Regions from separate parts of the Homo sapiens genome. Here region 1 is linked to region 2. A link means that fine-mapping ties the variant in region 2 to the expression of a gene that starts in the linked region. Tissue or cell type: blood mononuclear cells. Region 2 holds a variant in brackets; the other region holds the start of a gene. All regions are shown on one strand. Distances are from middle to middle.

Evidence for each region.
Region 1: KRT73-AS1 starts here. The variant in region 2 is fine-mapped to the expression of KRT73-AS1 in blood mononuclear cells (TOPMed, PIP above 0.99).

Annotation. Positions count from the first base shown.
Region 1 is chr12:52,608,691-52,611,441 of GRCh38, reverse strand. It overlaps KRT73-AS1 (KRT73 antisense RNA 1), which reads right to left and starts at 1,591. Exons shown (of 3, transcript NR_126005.1): 1 at 15-1,591. KRT73 (keratin 73) reads left to right here. Exons shown (of 9, transcript NM_175068.3): 6 at 113-238; 7 at 607-827; 8 at 2,161-2,195.
Region 2 is chr12:52,634,206-52,637,230 of GRCh38, reverse strand. It overlaps the pseudogene KRT128P. Among named protein-coding and RNA genes, the nearest start is that of KRT2, 16 kb to the left of the region's middle. The variant C/G (reference allele first, on the strand shown) is at 1,171.

The sequences.
Region 1 (2,751 bases), 26 kb after region 2:
GGACCTGGACCCACCTCTGCCAGGCTCTGCAAGTGCAGGCACAGTCTCTGTACCAGGCTGATCCCAGCCAAGCCCTGAGTCAGTGTTCTTGCTTTGGTTCCTTTTCCTCTAGTTCCAGGAGCTGCAGCTAGCAGCCGGCCGGCATGGGGATGACCTGAAACACACCAAAAATGAGATCTCAGAGCTGACCCGTCTCATCCAAAGACTGCGCTCGGAGATTGAGAGTGTGAAGAAGCAGGTGAAGGGGACTGGAGCCTTCCTTACTCACTCCTAAGGGAGGGGTGAACTGCTTAGCACCCCCTGCCCCCTCCTTCTCTTGAGCATCCATTTCAGAATCCCCTTCTTCAAATGGAGGTCCTGCTCTCATCCCTCACCCTTAGCTCCCATCTGAAGTTTGGAACAATTGCAGATTATTTTCATAAAGCTGTGGGGCCCAGCGTAGCAAGCCTCTCAGTCTCAGGTTGACAGGACTCCACCTGGATGTGGCTGGGTCTCTGCTCCAGGACATGGGGCAGGACAGAGGAGGGCTCAACCATTGAGAGCATGGGAGAGGTGAAGCGAGGCCCAGGGAGGAACTCAGGGAGAAATGCTACCTCCTGACCCCAGTGTGCCAACCTGGAGACGGCCATCGCTGACGCCGAGCAGCGGGGGGACTGTGCCCTCAAGGATGCCAGGGCCAAGCTGGATGAGCTGGAGGGCGCCCTGCAGCAGGCCAAGGAGGAGCTGGCACGGATGCTGCGCGAGTACCAAGAGCTTTTGAGCGTGAAGCTGTCCCTGGATATTGAGATCGCCACCTACCGCAAGCTGCTGGAGGGCGAGGAGTGCAGGTGGGTGGGACCGAGGGACTGGAAGAAACTGCAAGTCTCCACCTTAAAGTTTCCCAGAGTGTGGTTGGGGGCGGGGGGGAGGGGGCGGCGAGCTGGCGATGTGTTTACTTCACCCACAAGCATAGTTTCAAACAGCATCCTGCCAGATAATGTGACAGCAATTTCCTTTACAGTTCTCTTTTGACTCTTTGGAGAAAGTCTTAGCTGGGTGCTGTTGTGTCTTTAACACCTCTCAGATGGCCAGGCGCAGTGGTTCGTGCCTGTAATCCCAGCACTTTGGGAGGCTGAGGCGGGTGGATCACCTGAGGTCAGGAGTTTGAGACCAGCCTGGCCAACATTGGAGAAACCTCGTCTCTACTAAAAATACAAAAGTTAGCTGGATGTGGTGGTGCATGCCTGTAATCTTAGCTACTTGGGAGGCTGAGTCAGGAGAATCGCTTGAACCCAGGAGGCTGAGGTTGCAGTGAGCTGAGATCCTGCTACTGTCCTCCAGCTTGGGTGACAGAATGAGACTCCATCTCAAAAACAAACAAACAAACAAACAAACAAACAGACAAAACACAAAAACACCTCTCAGACACTTACAAATATCCCCTATTGATAAAGAGACAGTAGATCTCAGGTGCAGCATCTCTGGGAAAATAATAGCATTATTTAGCCCAAAAGTTTTAAATTGTTTTCTTTTCATTATATTTATTTTTACTGCTACTTTTTTTCTTATTTGGTTAGGTAATAATACTGGTTTCTATTTACCCTGGTGATAAAAAACTTCTTTTTAAAAGAAATGCACTTTTGTCGTAAAAGGCAGAGTCAATTAAAAATACTAAATATCTAACAGTACAAGTCAAACATGGTCCTAGCAACAGTCAGAAGGGTGGCACACGAAGCATGAACATTTGAAAAACCCTGTTCTAACCAAGCACCATTTTATAACTGAGACCTGGAGAGAAGTCACTTGCCCCAAAATCATACAGTTCGTTCATTAGTAGCAACTCCTGATCCTGATCTTTCCACATATGTATTTATTCAGACAGCTGCTCACAGTAGTAAAGAAATGGGTTCAAGAGAAACCCTGCAGGAGGGACCTTGGGGGTGGTAATGTTGTTGGGGGTTCCAAAGTTGCAGGTTCCACATCTCTGCAGTGGGAAGAGTAGATTGAGGAGCGAGAGGGAGGGCTTAGAGACATGCAAGGGCAGCCAGTGCCATCTGGCAAGTGTGGGGTGCGTGAAGGCTGAGCTGGTCTGGCTGGGGATCCCCAGCCTGTGTTTAGGCAGTGAGGGCCACTATGGGAGTCCACGTGATTCAGACTCTCCTGTGCTTTTCTCTCTTGCAGGATGTCCGGAGAATATACCAACTCCGTGAGCATTTGTGAGTATTTCATGACTCTGAGGGAATACTTTTAGTCCATCAACAAACACAAAGTGGGTGGGTGTCCACCGCCCAGCCCCCTGAGGAAGAGCTTGGCTCTGCCTGTTGACCACTTGGTCACATACTCACCTTCCTTGCTGAGACCTGCGGCCTCCCCATTCAGAGCTACTTCTTCCAGGTGGAGCTAGTGCCCAGGACATTCTGATACTGCACACTAGCCTCTTTCATAGCAATCTCCTGCCTGCTGTGGTGAAACTCTCAGCCCCTCCCCTCTTCTGTCACCCCCACACCGGCTCTCCTGCATGAAGGAAACTGAGCACAGAGTGGTGCCTCCTCAATGGGAGTGGAGACTGGTGTGTGGACCACTGTGCAAGCCAGTTTAATGCTGGCCCCACAGGGTTTGGCAGTCTCTTTCTTATAGTGGGACCAGCAGAAACTCCCTAATTTTAACAATCAGGAAATTCTTTTGAAAAATACTCAGAAGGTATTGTAAAGCTAAATGCAAGAACCTGCTGGCTTATCTGATGCTCAAGCATCATCTGTCCCCTGGGGAAAG
Region 2 (3,025 bases):
TGTACAATTATATTCTGTCTCGGCCTGGGCACCCACCCTCCTCCTGTCACTTTTGTCATAGTTAATCTCGTTAGCCTTGGCCTGTCCTGTCACCTTGGTCTCACTCTCCCCCTTCTGGTTTTCTGTGACCCCTGCTAAGACCTCTTTCTCAACTCTCTTTAGTGGGGCTAGTGAGGCTCCCACCTCATCCCTGATAAGACTGCCCTCTCCCTGCTTCCTCTCTTCCCCTGAAACCTGCTCAAAGTGCACTACCTCCAAGCAGGGGTCCCAATTCATGTCTCCTCAGCATTTATGGGCCCAACTCAATATTTCTGTATTGAGCTCTTGAATCAGTTGGCCTTGGTTCAAATCCTGTTTCTAATTCTTAACTAGTTGCGTCATTTGGGCAAAGTGCTTCATCTTTTAAACCTCAGTTTTCACTACTAAAAAAATGAAGATAATAACAGTGGCTGCCTCATAGTACTGTTGTGGAGATTAAAGGAGATTATCTTTGTAAAGCACTTACAGTTGTGAAACACAATAATCGGGCAATACATGATACCCGTGCTGTTGCTGTTGCTGTTGCTGCTGCTGGGAAAAGATGTGGACTTAAACATTTATCTTTGTAAAATTTCAGTGGTAAAAACTAACATTTATTTCCACTGCCCCCCCACCCCCGCCAACCCCGAACAGTTTGTATAACACCTTGGTTATGTAGCAAGGACAGGTGTCATTATCACCACATTTGACAGATAGCAAAGCTAAGGCTGAAAAGTCCACAATCACAAAACTAGGAAGTGGTAGAGCTGGCATTGGAAACCACGGCTATGGCTCTTGCATTTCACATCATTTCCACCACATATCCTACCACGTGTTCTTCCTTTGCCTGACTCTCTCCCCAGTGGCCGGGTTAGGGGCACTCAGACAGTGGGTGGGACCGCAGGGTAGGGCCTGGCTAAGCAGGAAGGGTACAGGATCATAGCATGGGGAAGACACCTCTGCTTCTCACCTGGATCCAGAGAAGGAGACTAGCTGAGAGGGGCTGTTGGGCCCTGCCAGGCACGCGTGTCATCTCACAGGTGACTTTACAGGTATGCGGACTCAGGGGAAAGAAGAGAAGGAGGGGCCCAAGACAAGAGTAAGTCTGCACTTCTCTGACCTGGATAAAACATATACAAAGAGAATCCTGAG[C/G]CCAGAATATTCTCTCAGGCAGCTGGCCAAATAGTTATGGAGTGACCGAAAGAAGGACCCAATGTTCTTGGCCTGCTTGAATGTTAAAAAAAAAAAAAAATTTATTTCCATAGGTTTTTGAGGAACAGGTGGTATTTGCTTACACGAATAAGTTCTTTAGTGGTTATTTGTGAGATATTGGTGCACCCATCACCCAAGCAGTATACACTGAACCTGATTTGTAGTCCTTTATCCCTCACCCCCTTCACACCCTTTCCCCCTGGGTCCCCAAATTCTGTGTGTCATTCTTATGCCTTTGCATCCTCACAGCTTAGCTCCCACTTCTGAGTGAGAACATACAATGTTTGGTTTTCCATTCCTGAGTTACTTCACTTAGAATAGTAGTCTCCAGTCCCATCCTGCAAATGTTGTCAATTCATTCCTTTTTGTGGCTGAGTAGTATTCCAATATATATATATATATCACAGTTTCTAAAAGAAGACCTGCTTCACCTCCCCATAGAGGAGTTTGAAGCCTTATGGGGCTTGATTGCTTCTGTTGTAAAAATTATACCTGCTTATTATTTTAATCTTGGAAAAATAGAAATATAGAAAATTTAAAAAATTCACCACTACACAAAACAACTACTGTTAACACTTTGATGTATTTTCTTTTTGAACATGCTTTTCTAAAGTATTTAGCTTTAGTCAGTTAAACAATATTTCTCTGCTCATCCTATACCTCCAGTCTTATCCTAGGCCTTCTTTTCTGTGCCTAGGATTTAGTGGTCATATTGATTATTCAATTTTGATTTTTCCTTTTCCCACTTAACATTAAAACAGAATTTTTTGGTTTGCATAAGCCCAGTAATTTTTATTAGTTATGTAATATTTCATTGGTGGACACAGTTAACTCCTAATCCCTTTTTTGGACACTTGTTTTGGGAAAATATATACAGGATACTGTGTATATTTTTGGTAGGGAGGTGGAAGTAACTCTCACCAACTGTAGAAAATTCCATTTAGTATGTGTCTCTAAATCACTTTCCTTTACAGATATCAGTTTCTAATTCATCAGTGTCTCTGTCCTAAAGCTTTAGGAAGATGTATCTCTGGTTTTAATATCACTCTGGTAGAAACTAAAAGTGCTGAAATAGCAACAATCTCAGAAAATACCCGACCTGATAGCTTTTTGGGCATAATCATACACACCTCATATTGCCTAGGTCAGCAGATAGTTGACAGGTAGACCATAATAAGAAAACCCTGCTAACTAAGCAATAGTTACTAGACTGACTGTTCCCAAGTAGAAGGCTGTATTTATTTTTTTGTCACTTTTAGTGTCAGGGTAGCCAAACCCATGAATTTGTCTTTGGCCCACTGCCAGCTCCAGGAGAGGTATAAGGTGACACCTCAGCATTCTGGCAGGGAAACATGGAGACACCTTCTTCCCACCTCTCTATGTCACTCACTGCCTTGGAGTCACTGTGAGCAGGCAGGTGTATGCTTGAGGTGCCAGAGCACAGGCTTTGGTAGTGGCTGGGTCATGCTGCTGGGAGGGTGCCAGAGACGAGCAGCACAGCCTTGGCAGAGGCTGCCACTCTTGTGGAACAGCACAGAGGGGCACGAAGCCAAGGCTATGCTGAGCCAGGCGGTTATAGCAGCTGGAGTCTCGTTAGCCCTGCGGGGAGAAAGAGCATCTCCATCATCATGGCTGGAGGCCGGGACCATGGAGGCAGACAAAGGAGCTATGGAGGTGGACAGTTTGGGGTGGGAAGCCTAGCAAGGAGGGCTTTGGTCTTGACAGTGGTTTTGGGGAGCATGGGTCTGTAGGTTCTCTGGTCTGCCCTGGAGGCATCCAGGAAGTTGTGATAAAC